Linked DNA regions of Homo sapiens. The protein of the gene in region 3 interacts with the protein of the main gene of each other region in a pairwise test. Each region holds a gene or a part of one and is shown on either strand. Other genes may lie near its edges.

Evidence for each region. Proteins that work in one complex are often made in the same cells at the same time.
Region 1: the proteins of IQUB (region 3) and PRR23D1 interact in a two-hybrid assay, tested with the Homo sapiens proteins (one large-scale study listed by BioGRID).
Region 2: the proteins of IQUB (region 3) and ALX4 interact in binary tests that used the Homo sapiens proteins (3 or more experiments, as listed by UniProt).
Region 4: the proteins of IQUB (region 3) and TMCC2 interact in a two-hybrid assay, tested with the Homo sapiens proteins (2 studies listed by BioGRID and IntAct).

Annotation. Positions count from the first base shown.
Region 1 is NC_000008.11:7,538,498-7,542,426, reverse strand, and holds the start of PRR23D1 (proline-rich protein 23D1), read right to left. Parts: upstream 2,801-3,929; 5' UTR 2,623-2,800; coding exon 2,546-2,622; intron 1,783-2,545; coding exon 1,721-1,782; intron 1,476-1,720; coding exon 1,408-1,475; intron 1,180-1,407; coding exon 547-1,179; 3' UTR 1-546.
Region 2 is NC_000011.10:44,307,340-44,311,472, reverse strand, and holds the start of ALX4 (homeobox protein aristaless-like 4), read left to right. Parts: upstream 1-1,333; 5' UTR 1,334-1,410; coding exon 1,411-1,876; intron 1,877-4,133. UniProt on the Homo sapiens protein: Transcription factor involved in skull and limb development. Plays an essential role in craniofacial development, skin and hair follicle development.
Region 3 is NC_000007.14:123,451,693-123,454,595, forward strand, and holds the end of IQUB (IQ motif and ubiquitin-like domain-containing protein), read right to left. Parts: exon of another isoform or gene 1,240-2,903; intron 1,234-1,239; coding exon 1,051-1,233; 3' UTR 501-1,050; downstream 1-500. UniProt on the Homo sapiens protein: Adapter protein that anchors the radial spoke 1 (RS1) complex to the A microtubule of outer doublet microtubules in axonemes. The triple radial spokes (RS1, RS2 and RS3) are required to modulate beating of the sperm flagellum.
Region 4 is NC_000001.11:205,234,446-205,237,945, reverse strand, and holds part of TMCC2 (transmembrane and coiled-coil domains protein 2), read right to left. Parts: intron 1,442-3,500; exon of another isoform or gene 988-1,441; intron 763-987; exon of another isoform or gene 655-762; intron 1-654.

The DNA of each region.
Region 1 (3,929 bases), on a different chromosome or scaffold from region 3:
TTCAAAAGCATTGGCCTGGGGAGTGTAGGGAACCTGGACTAAGACAAGGAATGGGGCACAGCTTGGAGAAAAAGGGGAGAGTCTCAGGGCAGAAATAGAGCATCAGCCTTAGGAATTATTTATTGTGGCATCAGACCAATGACTACAAGGACATCAGCATGCAAGGGGCGGTGTTAGCCCCCGGGAGTGAGCAGCTGTCTTCAGATGAACTTTCAGACCACGTCATGCTGGAAGCAGAACTCTCACATGGAGCAGTCAGGGATTTGATTGAGTGTGGTTGGATGTATGTGCTTAAATAGGAAGAGAAAGTCTAAGGGACAGTGTGTGTGAAGTGAAATGTGAATGTTTTATTTGAACTCCCTGCAGTTCTCCCCCTCCCTGCAGCATCTGGGACCCTCCGCTGTTGAAGACAGTGGTTGATGATGGGGAACAGCAAAGGGCAAGCAAGTGGTCAAATTACTTTCTCTCCACATTTCAGAGAATGCACTGACTAAGGATCTGGACAATCTCTGACCTATCAATGCAGGGGGTGGCTCTTGGGTTAAATCACTTCCTAAAGAGACATCTCCGTGCCCTGCTGGGAGGCCTATGGTGAACCCTGTGATAGACCTGGGGACCAGGACTTGGTGAAGGGGGCATAGGTCTGAGGGAGGAGGTGCACAAGAGCTCCATACCATGCAGGCTGAAACTGGAGTCGGCTGGTCTAGGGCGTCCCACAGGACTAGGTGTGGGTGGTAGAGGGTAGCATTGGGGGAAGGCTGCCCGACAGCGTGGAATGCACAATGGGGTTACTAGGAAAGAAGGGCTGATCCCAGCCATGTGGTTTGCTTGGGGTATCATCAAGGGCTGCTGATACAGGGGTGCTGCCTTCCCTTCTTCTGCAGGTGAAAAAGGCACATTCTCTCTTCTCATGTCTGAGATGTCTCCATCTTGAGCATGGAACTCCAAGCTGAAGTCATCAACGGAAGGTATGATGTACTGGATCTGCACAGGGGACTGCAGGCCATCTTCTGACCTCAGGACATGCTCAGGGACAATCACAAGGACTGTGTTCTCCAGGGTCAGCTGCAGCACTGTCTCTGGGGCCAAGATGAGGATGACCTCTTCCAGGCTCAACCTCACTTCTGTCCCTTGTTCCAGGACTATCATGAGCTCCTCAGTGCCAGAATCCTGCTGATTCTGTGGAAAGACAGTCCTCAGTATTCTGCCCTCCAAAAAGGCTGCAAATGATGCTCATGGGGAGGGAGATGCCAGGAGCTTCACCCTTTACAACTTTAAAATACAAACTCCCTCCCAGAATTGGTGCTCATGCCAATCCACCTAAATATACATCCACTGGATGTCCCTTGAACCTGAAGATTGTGCAGCACTATCCAATCTTTGCTATGCAAGGACACAGGAACTTACCTGGGGAAGTTCCAGGGACTGGTATGAATTCAGGTGTGGAGCTCCTGAAATTGAGGGTTTTTTTGCACCTGCAGAGAGACCACAGTGAGGGAGGTTAAGGCTCTCTTCCAGCAAGAGTCTCTTGCATTTCAGAATGTGACCTTCAGAAATCCACCACCCAGCACTGGCCAGCCTCAGGACACCAGCCCCCAACAGTCAAGCACGACTTTCCACTCACCCTGCAGAAAGCACCCTCTCCATTTATGGTATCATGAGACATGACACTGACTTCCAGGCATGGGAATCTTAAAAAATATTAGGGAAAGTGCCTTACCTGTACTGGGACCCTGCTCCACTTGGCGACGTTTGGGTGGATTCATTTGTGTGGTAGCCAAACTGCAGGACAGAAAGGGACCCATCAATCTTCCACATAGTGACACAAAGTCCAATTCTCACAAGCCCCAAACTTCATTAGTCATCCGGCACACATTGCTGCTGTGGCCCAAAATCACATGCACTTGTGTTCAGCTCCAAATCCTACCTGCATCCAGAAAGTCCTAACACTCATATCCCACCCTCTCCTTTTCTAGAGGCTTTTCCTATCGGTGCATGTGTGTGATAAGACATGGCGATCACAGGAAACAGTTTGCTTTTTCAGGAGCTCATCCACATGAGAAGGAGGGACATCAAATTTGGCCCGAGGACTTTAGGAGAAGATGCTGATTTTCCGGGTATCTAACCCCTGTGTCTATGCAGTTACAGTGTGAATGGAGTGATAAATGACATGAAATGTTCCATTTTCTAGTGAGCACAAGGAAAAAATTTAGATCATGCCCACAGTTTACCTGTCTCCACACAAGAGGCAACTTCTGTTTACCCAGAGGACAGAGATTAACAATGGGAAGAAACATGAGATGAGCCCCCTGACAGGCTGCAGAAACCCCCCATGCTGGCTGCATCCTGTGGCCTCCACTGTGGGTCTCATGTCTCCCCAATGTGTTCTAAATTTATAACATTCAATGTCATGGCAGGCCAGGGTGTCTTCTCTGCCCTAGTTTGGCCCTTTAGCATACATTCACACACACACACACACATACAGTCACACACAGTCACATGTCAACCTCCTGGCAACCCAAAGTAGCCACATACTCCAACATACCTGGTCTCTCCTTCATTGTCATTCTGCGGTTCTGTCTGGGAATCTCTGGGGCTTCTTAAGCGCCGGTAACCATACATGGTAAAAGTTCTCTGGACTTGCTTGTGTCAAAAAAATCTCAATCTTTGGCCTATTTTCTGTAAATCTATATAGTTCGTGCCTTGATCTTTTACTCTACCTGGAGAAAAATTATCAGCCTCTAGCACAGCACAGCCAGAGCATGGAAGAGTGTGTCCTGGCCTGGGACCGGTCAAATGGTGCTTTGGTAGAGTGAGCTCTTGGGGAAATCCTCCAAGGGTCTTATAAGAGGTGGAGCCATGGGATTTGTCAAAATGGATGAATGTGATTGGCTAGTGGTGCTGATTAAACAACATGAAGGGCCAGCATGGGAGTGGTTTTATCAAAACTCAGTCAATATGAGTGTGACCCAGTCAGAATTAGCCTAATTCAATCAAAATTAATTCAAGATCTCTACTCTGATTCACCATATAATTGTGACATAAAATAACAGTATTTTAAACTAGCAATATTTACTTTCTATTGTAGTCTGTTCATTAATTTGGTAGGACAGTTATTTTCTGTAAAGTTCATGTGTACGTCGTTTCTTAGTAAACATAAAGGATTGGGTCTAGGAAACTTTAAATATGCCACAATTTGTATATACTCAAGTCCCTTGTATAAAACGGCGTAGAATTTGAATATAACATAATCACATTAATTTATATAATTTAAATGATCTCTAGATTACTTACAATACTTAATGCAATGCCCAGACGTCACGTCATTTATGTGAACTCAAAAAGAATGTGATGCATGGAAAATTTAAAGTTTCTTTGAAGAAACTTGTGCAAATCTTTTGTGAATATTTTCTATTCAAGATTAGTTGGATCCATGAATATGGAACCTATGGATGTGGAGGGCTGACAGTATTTTTAAATAAAAAAAAATACGTTATTTTAAGTGAATTAAGTTTTAAAATGAATCTCCTGGGGAAAGTTATCCAAACAGAAGAAGCGAATACTATAAGACAAGCTGGGGAAAATACAAAAAGAACCTTTACTTAATTTCTAATATATCATTGTGTATTAATCTGTCTGTTAATTTATTTCTTGCCTGTATCCCCGCTGGACTAATTTCAGAATTGTAATGCAAGTTTTGCTTTCAACATTACTTATTAATTACAAATCCATCATTCTTATTGGCAAAGTCACCTAAACTTCTTGCAGGTGGCCAGACACCATATGCCTGAACTCAGAATTAGTCATTTTAAGATTAAAAATTATTTGACAGTATAAAGAATAATAGATGGTATTGGGGGAAAACAGTAATCCAGTAATCACTAGAACTGAACTAGAAGGAAAATCTGTGAGGGTGCACCATTACTGAG
Region 2 (4,133 bases), on a different chromosome or scaffold from region 3:
CTGAGCCTCCGTTAGCTCATCAGAAAATTGGGGGCGCCAATCTCTAGCACGGTTGTCATGAAGCGAAATCGAGGGGCTGCACGCGCAAAGTTTTTTCCCTTGCTGTGGCGGTGCCAGGGGCCTTGAGGCTCGCAGTGGTGGTGAAACCACAACCTATCAAAACCAAGCAGTTCGTTTTACAGTCGGGGGCAGTGAGGCCAGAAAGGGAAGAGACGGTCTCACCCCTCTCCCCGACCCCTGACCCCAAGGAGTGAACAGGTGACAGCGCGACTATCGGGCAAGGTCAGGGGGTCTCCAGAGTCCGCTCTCTGTACTTCGCCTGGCAGGAAATCCCCTCGCCTGGGCGCAGACGTGGGGCGTGAACGGTGCGGCCTCTAGACGGGAGCGCAGAGGGCAGCGCTCTAAAGCTTCTGAAGCCGGGCCCAGCCCAGGGCTTCTCCAGGGCTTGAGGGAGCACAGATTCCGCTACATCCCAGCCCAGCGCCCTTACAGCAGAGGGAAATAGTTAACAAGACGTGCAAGTGACCATGCACTGGACGACGAAGGCTTGTGTGTGTGTTAATCTCCCGTAGGAACGGGAATGGGGAGGAAGGTTGGAAACCTAGGAAAAGGTGCCAGCGGGAAGGCCCGCAGCGGCGCCCGCGAGCTCGCGCGCAGGAGTCCGTAGGACTCGCTTGCATCCGCAGGCCCGTGGTCCCCCTGGCTTCGAATGTCAAAACCTGTTAGGTTTATTTTGGGGGGCTTTTTTTTAACCTGTCATTAAAATTTGCATTTCCCTTTGCCCTAAGGCAAAGCTCCGACACCCCGCCAATTCTCAGCCTAGCCTCGGGAGCCCTGGGGATCCTGGCATCTCCCCAGCCCCGCCTAGAATCGGAAAAGCCCTCGGGCGCCTCCGGGTTGAATCCCCGCTAGCGAGTTAGTAGCATCTCCTTAAGAGTGGAGAGGAGGGGGCAGGGGCCAGTGGAAGGAGAGAGGAGGAGGGGACGAGAGAGGGGGAAAGGAAGAAGCAAGGCAGGGAAAAAAATTTACTTATTTTTTTTTTCCGCTGCAAAACCTTAAGAGGGTTTGGGAGATCTGGTCAACTTTCCGAAACATCTGAATCTTTTTACTGCCCTCCGTTCTTTCCCTCGGCTAGCTGTGGGGAGGGAGGAAAGAGAGAGAGGGAGAGAGAGAGGAAGGGGGGGGGAGGGAGGGGAAGAGAGAGAGAGGAGGGAGAGAGAGGAGAGAGACAGAGAAAGAAGAGGGGGAGAGAGAGAGAGGCCGGCGTGGAGGGGAGGAGGGAGAGCGAGCAGGCCGGGCAAGGAGTGCACAGCCACAGCCTCCTCGCCTCCCCAAACTCCCAGCCAAGGCGCGCGGTGGCGTCCTCGCGCCCTCGCTCGCGTCCCCGCCCGCCGCCTGCGCAAGCCAGGCATGAATGCTGAGACTTGCGTCTCTTACTGCGAGTCGCCGGCCGCTGCCATGGACGCCTACTACAGCCCGGTGTCGCAGAGTCGGGAGGGCTCGTCGCCTTTTAGGGCATTTCCCGGAGGCGACAAGTTCGGCACAACTTTCCTGTCGGCCGCCGCCAAAGCACAGGGATTCGGGGACGCCAAGAGCCGGGCCCGTTACGGCGCTGGGCAGCAGGACCTGGCGACACCCCTGGAGAGTGGAGCTGGGGCGCGGGGCTCCTTTAACAAGTTCCAGCCCCAGCCGTCGACCCCGCAGCCCCAGCCGCCGCCGCAGCCGCAGCCGCAGCAGCAGCAGCCGCAGCCCCAGCCGCCCGCGCAACCGCATCTTTACTTGCAGCGAGGCGCCTGCAAGACGCCCCCGGACGGCAGCCTCAAACTCCAGGAAGGCAGCAGCGGCCACAGCGCGGCCTTGCAGGTTCCCTGCTACGGTGAGTGCACGTGCGGGTCACCTGGTGCTGGGGACCACGGGGTGCTTGGCTTCCGCATCCCTTGAAACTGGTGGCTTGCGGGAGGTATGAGTTGGCGGGCTGGGGGCGGGGTGGTGACTCTGGTCGGTAAACGGGATCGATCGCTGCGAGGGAGCCAAGGGATCTGTTCTGTCTCCTTCTTGTCCGCCGGCCTAGGCACGGAGCGTTTCGGCTGTTAAACTCGACTTGGAGTTTGTTTTTCCCGGTCCCTTCGGCATTTCCCCAAACCGCTCGCTTTGCGCTGCCCGCTGGGCGGGATTTGAAGCGGATGCTTCTTACCGGCCCAGGGCGTGCGGCGGCAAGGAGTCTCCGCGCAGCGCTCTGGCGCTGGGCTGCGGGGCTGCGGGGCTGCGGGGCTGCGGGGCTGCGGGGCTGCGAGGCTGCGGGGCTGCGGGGCTGCGGGACAGCAGGACTGCAGAAGCCTCGCTCCTCGCCGGCTGGGAGGCTCCTCGGGCGGCGCCGCCGCAGGTGAGAGCGCCGCAGGTGCGGAGCCAGGCGGGAAGCCCGGAGCGTGGTTGGCCGAAAGCTCACGGGAAATCCAGGCGCACTGGCGCAACACAGTGCGGAGCCAGAGACCCTAGGGTCCCAGGGGACACTGTGGTCTGGCAAGACCCGAGTCCTGGGACCCTGAGCGCTACTGGCAGTGGGGATGCGGGCAGGCCAGTTCCCCTGGAGCTTCTCCCTCGGCGATTCTTGGAGGCGGCAGGCCTCTGAACAATGGTTTAGGACAGAGTAGGAAGGGAGACAGGAAGTCCCGAGTCCCAGGTGGCCCAGAGCTGTGGCAAGAGAGAAGGGTCTGGGTCCTGATTTGAGCCCACGGGGAACCCGGGGGAGCTGGCCTAAATGACCTCCAAGCTGCCTTGAACGCAGCCACAGGAGGCAGGCCTGGGCCCCCCAGAGCACAGCCACCATTGCCCGGGAGAGAGAGACACTCAAGGACGTCTCTAGCCAGAGCAGCTCAGTAGCCTAGGCCTTCTCTTCTTCCAGAGAATCGGGGTTCCTGAACCCCAAAGCGGAAGGGGAAGCAAAGACGCAGAAAGGGAAAAACCTTCTCTGGGCCAGGAGTCCTGAGCACATACCCGGAGGCCTTGGCCTTCAGGTCCGGCCCTGGTGGGAAGAGTTGGGGGCAGGGAATTTGCCCTGATCCAGGCTGATGGAGAGGCACTAGGCCTGGGGACAGAGGCTGGGACACGGCGGAGGCCTTGGTGGCTAGAATAACTTTGGGAAAACAGCCGATGGCAGATATTTTCTCGTATTCAGGTTCCTTCTTTCACAGGCGCAGAACTAGTTCATAGATGGCTGCTGACAAACATTCACAGTCATATGCTTGTCTACAATTGCACTCTACACACACACACGCAGAGAGCATCTTCTTTAGGAGCCGATGTGGTCATACCCCAAGAACACATGCCCATGTGGCCTCGAATGAGCCACATACTCCCAAACCCATAGGACAGAACTGAGAGAAGATTTAGAAAGATTCAGTGGCCCTTCCCCACTTCCTCCACCTTCCTCTTCACCTCCAGTTGGAATGAGATCAGGCATTCAGATCACAGACCCCCAAGGCTCCACACACAGACACCCACAGCTCCACATGCAGGCACACACAGTTCCACACACAGACACCCACTGCTCCACACACAGACACCCACAGCTCCACACACGGACACCCACAGCTCCACACACGGACACACACAGCTCCACACATGGACACACACAGCTCCACACACAGACACACACAGCTCCGCACATGGACACACACAGCTCTCATACAGGCACTCTTTCCGTGCTAAGCCAGCAGAGACTCTCAGCCCTGTCCGTACTGGCTGTCCTTCCCAGCCCAGGGATGCAGGCCCCAGCTCGTCCCTGTCATTCAGGACTATTAGGTGAGGGCAGGTCGCAGACTAGGGGACCCATGGAGGTTCATCCTGCATAGCCAGAGAGCTCATGCTCTCTCTCCACTGCATTGAATTTTCATATTTTAATGAAAATTACCAGTGAGACCTCTGAAGAGGCTGATACATTAGGCAAGAAGAGAGCCTAAGGAGCTCCCCACCTCTTGGTTAAATGCCTTCAGGTCCAGAGGGAAGGCGGAGAGGCCTGGCCTCCCCTGAGCCCTCTCTCTGTGTCCTGCTGGGCCCCCACAGCCAGCCTGGCCCTTCCTCTACTTGCACTAGCCTTTGGAGCTGACGGAAAGGGCCAGCCACTTGACCCGCTA
Region 3 (2,903 bases):
TTGTATATTTCTCTAGTTCATGAGATTCCCCTATGCCTGGCCGTTCCCTTTACAGCTGGTCATTGATCCTTTCAGTTATCTTCTTTACACTCTTCCTGGGTTCTCAGACTTTCTCCCCAAGTTCATTTGAGACTAAAGGGAGAGATAGCCTGTCTGATACTAGCCCTGGGTTCCTGCACTATTCTTTTAGTTTCCCTACACACTACCCACACCTTATAATAAGGCCCTTTGTAAATAAACTCTCCTTGGCTTAAGCTATTTCGAGTGTGCCATCCATTTCCTGTTAAGACTGACTGGCAAACCATTGTTCATCACTGTAGGTCCCTAACTTATATGTGGTCAAGGTCACTCCTTTGGTTTATTGGAGAAGGGCGTTGTTATGGTTTATTTAACCAGTTTATTCTTCTTATAGTTTCACCATTGCCCACAGGGAGTTTTTCTTGCATATGCTAATAGCTCCATTGTTTACCCAGAATGAAGGTTTTTTGTTTATTTATAAATAGTTTCAAGTGTTGTTTTATTGGGATTATGAGAAGGATGGAAGGTGAAAGCAGACGATAAACTGCAAAGATTCAAATGCCTATACTAAAATATAAATTTTTTTATCCTACTTAAAGAAGTTTTCAAGAAAGAGCACTTTATAATGTTTCCTCCCCTCCACATACTGATTAGCTTCCTATAACTACATTCTATCTAAAATAAATAACTTGAAAGTTGTCTAGTTTTTATTTGGCTGTTTGTTAGATTTTAACTCTAATATACTTGAAAAAATTTAAAAAATTTAATGTGAAAACACATTTTAAAATGTTTTCTTTACCCCAAAATATTAATTTCAGTAACAAAATTGCATTTCAATTTAGCACCAACTTCCTAACAAAGAATACTTACTTATATAGAAATGTTTTCTCTTTATATAACTCAAAATACTATGAAAAACAAAAAACAAAATCAATAAACAGATTAAATTCCATTTCCATACTCTGTGACCTCTGTATTACCCTATTAGCAGTGAACAAAATGCCGATCATCAAACAAATACTCCTGGATCACCTAATGAGGAGGCCTCTGGGATTCTATAATCTTAGGTGTTGTGTCTGAGTGATACTTCCATCTGATCTCATCAATTTCACCATCATCAAGTATAAATGAAGCCAGCACTGGAACCTGAGAAAAATAGTTCTTAGCCAGGATATGTTTGTGTTTGATCTTGTGAATAAATGAGCGTTCATATCCCTGCAAAGAAAAAAATCAAATTCTAGTAAATATCACAGATATATTTTGCCAGGTAAAAATACTGTCATGCCTCGGTGCCTTTGCTTGTCAATTCTTTCATCCCAGACTACCTTTATTTTTCTCACGTTGTCTATCATCATTCACGACTCAGCTCCTATGATACTTTAACCTGGAAGTTTTCCCCAACTCTCCCTCTGACTTCTCTAAGTTTAAACCACTGCTAGTTATCAACTCAATATTCATTCTTTCTCCCATTTGAGCCAGAGGCCTGATTTTGTATAGGGTGTGATGTGTCTAGCTTTCTTAGCCCTTATTCTAACTGGGGGTATCTAGTTAGAATATATATATATATATATATATTATTAATGTTATAGATATTGAGGTGAGAAAAAACAAAAATAAAAACAAAACAAAACAAGGGAAGTCTGAGAAACTGTCACCACCAAGAAGAATCTAAGGAGATAACTAAATATCTTCCAAGATTATTTAATTATACACAATATATATAACCTTATATAATTATATATATATAATTGAATAAAGCCTTTGAAAGGGACTTTTGAGAGTGGGAAGACTCACCTATCAAGCACCTCTAGCCTTTTGCCATTACTGAGAGGTACATGTAATGAAGAAGATGAACTAGCTATCCTATCACTAAGAGCCCACCAAGCATGAGAGAGAAAGCTGAAGATTAAATATGGCTGAGGAAAAAGTGAGATGGCCTGAATTTCTGAGAACAAGGTGGAGCCACCATACTAGCCCCAAACTGCCAACCTTTGAACTTTCTTGTTACATAAGAAAACTAAACCCACATTTGATTAAATCATTATAAATTGCTTTTTCTGTTCTTGTAGCTGAACCTAAATGCAACTGAGACAACAAAAAGTTATATTCATTAAATTTTCTTGTTTCTCTGTAATTACTTAGTACAGTATTTGGCACATTCAAAAGTAAATTCTGGTTAAATTAATAAATATAATCTATTACCTATTAATCTTAATTGGCCCTCTTTTCAATCAAATCACAAATACTACCTATACTTCTTCCTAAAATTTATTTTCTGAGAATAAGACATTCCCTCAATAAAGGTCTCTTCAGAGGGTCAAATCAAAGATAAAAGAAAGTCCTGGGTGAAAGGACCAAAAGAGCAGAAAACATTATATAGGAGTATCCTGGGCTTATTAAAATTTCCTCTTAACAGAAAAATTTACTAGGTTAAAATATTCATCTTTTGAGCTAATCTAACTTTGTTTCTACCACTTCTTAGCCCATATTTCATTCAAGAAAAACTAACACACTTTATTATGCTATATTAACTTACACATGTACAGAACTTTATAGGTTTTCAAGGTGCCTTTACAGTACTATAAATTATTAAAGATGAGATAAATTATGATATATGTGTTCAAGGCACTAATAAGTAACTCTTAAATAACTGAATATATTTCCATATTATATTATTTATATTGTTAAGTAAAGCAAAGAAACTAAGTCTCAGAGTCATTTAATATGAAATTCCTGCTACAGTAAAAGTATATATACTTACATACACATAGAAAACTTCCAGAAGGATTTCAATAGATTATTATATACCTAAGAAATAGTAGTTATCATTGCAACATGGAGATAGGGATGGGTGGACATCAAGAGACCTTTTTTCCCATTGAAAT
Region 4 (3,500 bases), on a different chromosome or scaffold from region 3:
GTCCCCAGAACTGGCCATAAGGTAGTCAGAAAGGAGAGCCTCCCAGGGTGAGGTGCCCCGGGGAAGGAAGTGAGGGGAGTTGGCTGTCCCTCCCCTGGAACTATCTGAAAGGGCAGGAAGAGCCCCATCTCCTTGGGTGGCACTGTCCTTTCAGGAAAAAAGGGAGGACTAGATGGCTTCTGAAAGATCCTTCCTGAGAAGGCTGTGGTTTCTGAACAGTTGGGCTTCATCCGTCTTTCTCCCTGGGTGTGGGTCCCCCAAAGGGGAAGTTTGCTCCAAAATCTGCAAACACAGCTGCATGAATACAAAACTAAAATGCCTTGGGGTACAGTGTCATTGGCACCATCTGGTTAAAAATGACCAAAAGTGGTTTCTAATTTTTACAGGTACGTGTGTTCTCAACAAATCCCAGGAAAGCTTAAAGTCACACTAATCTATAGCTAATTATCCCACCTGGCAGCTGACTGCATAGCCCTTCCTCCTACCTGGGTTTGAAACTCCTTCCGCCCTACCAACAGTTTGGCTGTGAGGGTTCAGTGGGGTGACTGGGTCACCCTGAGCCTTTGCCAGCCTAGGTCGCCAACATTCCTCTATTTATAGGGTCTCTATGGAAACAGGGCCAGCATTAGAGAACTAATCACTGTAAAAACCCACAGAGTTCTACTCTTAGGATCCAAAGTGGATTGAAGAAGTCTCCAATTGCCCTTAAGAAGCTCTGGGTGGGGAGCCTGAGTGGGAGCAGGAGAGGAACCATTACCCCAGGTTTGGCGCTGATGATCACAGTGGTGTACAGTAGGCAGCTGCAACTGTTCAGGCCCACTTGGAGTTTCTACTGGAAACCCAGTGATGAAAGATTTTTGGAATCATTTATTTATTCCCCAGCCTCACAGATGAAATTTTAAAAAAAAAACTCAACTCATGGGCACACGGGCAAAAAATTCCCCCATTCTCAATTTTATTTTGATTCCTCTTTCCTTTATTGCTTAGAGAATTCAGCCTGGAGCCAAAGCAAGTGGGAAAAGGTCACCTCATCCACCATGTCTTTAGGCAGAACTGATTCAGCACACACCAACATAGAAGACTTTTATTAAAGTTCCCAGCATGGCGTGCCCTCTCTCTGCCTCTTTGCATCCTACCCATCCTTCACCACCTCGCCACTCCATAAAGCCCTCTCTGATCACACCAGTCTGCAGCGATCTCGCCCTGCTCTGAACACATAAGCGCTCATTATCTGCACCACTCATTTTGCAATTAATCGTGTACTGCCTTGTGACATCGCTTCTAGTGCTTTGTCTGACTGTTATCCAACTTCTCACCTGCTGACGGATGGAACCCTTGATGACAATATGAGTGACTGGACAGCAGGAGCTACAGCTCCTACATCTCTGTGTCCCTAACATTACCTGGCAGAGGCCTCAACACCAACATGGAAGACAGCTAGGTAAATTATTTGTTCATTTATTTTCTGAGCAGCCACTATCCAAGTCTCTACAAATCCATCTTACAAAGGTGATTTTAATCCTTAGATGACTACCTTTTCCAAAGACATAACCTTTCACAAAGATTTCAAATGCTCCAACAGCCTTTTCTTGTGTCTAACTCAGATTTCTCCTGCTGCAGTTTAAACCCTCTTCTCACTCTATTATCTTAGTAACCGCCAAGATTGAGTTGGCTTGGAAGGAGATGAACACAGACCAAGGAGCCAGAATGTATGTGATGTCTTCACAAATGGCTTAGGGAGGGCTTGGGAGGGGGCTCATGTCCTTACAGCCAGATTTGTTTTCCCTGGTGGACATCACTCAGTTAACCTGGCTGGAATAAGGAAGCCTTTAGTCATTTGGTTTAAAAATAACTGTTCTTTTTTTTTTTTTTTTTTTGAGACAGAGTCCTGCTGTGTCGCCTAGGCTGGAGTGTAATGGCGTGATCTCCGTTCACTGCAACCTTTGCCTGCCGGGTTCAAGCAAATCTCCTGCCTCAGCCTCCCGAGCAGCTAGGACTATACGGGCACACCACCATGCCTGGCTAATTTTTTGTATTTTTAGTAGAGACGGGGTTTCACCATGCTGGCCAGGCTGGTCTCGAACTCCTGACCTCGTGACCCCCCTGCCTCGGCCTCCCAAAGTGCTGGGATTACAGGCGTGAGCCACCGCGCCCAGCCAAATAACTGTTTTTCTAGCACAGTCACAAAACATACCTGTTATCCCCCAACAGCTTTGTTCTAACTTCTTACACGAAGAGAGACTTAAGTGTTTGGCTGACAAAGGTGGACCCTGTCCAGCTATGGCCTCATTCCAAAAATGTAGCATGCTAGTAGTCTATGGGGATTTCAAAGGCAGATGCCATTTCTTAAGGGAGAGATGAAAACAGAAATGAGTTCTGAGTTGGCCTTTAAGACCACCACTGAGAAGCTGCCTGAGCCCTTTTCCCCAGCTCCTGATAACCCCACACTTTGAAAACTTCAGCCCAAAATTTAGGTCCTATCAGATATTTCAACTCCTTGCTGAAGGAGATTCTTGTTAATGGGATTGGCAGTGAAGACATAATTAGATACACAAAAAGAAGCACATTCTGTAAATACTGAGCCTGCCAGACAGTTCCCACTAGAACAACTAGGGCAGCTGGGAATTAATCTAGAACTCAATATGTGGCAGGAGAACAGGGAGTTTCGTTTGCCACATGCTTTCCCATCGGTCACCAGTTCCCCCAGAGCCCACATAGAGGGCTGCTCTGAATATTACCTAGGCTGGAGGGGGTGGGGGGGAGGCAATCCTGGGCCTTCCAACCCTCTGCCTGCTTCATATAAGGTGCAAGCGGGACAAAACAGTTAACTTCAGCATTTGCACTACCCTCCATTGTTCCTGATCATTCTAGTCAAACAGGGCAAAGACCCTACAAAAGCACTTGCTACCTCACTTCCCCCATTTAGAAAGCCCCTCTTCTCTTGTTTGGTAATAAATGTCCCACCCCTTCTTTAAAATCTTGCTCTAGGCCGTGCGCAGTGGCTCACGCTTATAATCCCAGCACTTTGGGAGGCCGAGGAGAGTGGATCACCTGAGGTCAGGAGTTTCAGACCAGCCTGGCAAACATGATGAAACCCCATCTCTACTCAAAATAGAAAATTAGCCCGGTCTGGTGGTGCATGCCTATAGTCCCAGCTACTCGGGAGGTTGAGACAGGAGAACCGCTTGAACCCGGGAGGCAGAAGCTGCAGTGAGCCAAGATTGCGCCACTGCACTCCAGCCTGAGACAGAATGAGATTCCATCTCAAAAAAAAAAATCTTGCTCTAAACCCACCTCTTGCAGAACAACTTTCCTGATTAACCCCCATAAGTTTCTGATTGCACTGCATGATGCTCTAAGTACCCTTTAACTTCTATGTATTTCCATGATGGTTTTCTTAGAAGTATTTCATCCTATTTGACCTGGAGATCAGCTGGAGGTGAGGCCAAATAACTAATTTCCCATTTCCTTTTTGTTTGTTTGTTTTGTTTTTTATTTTT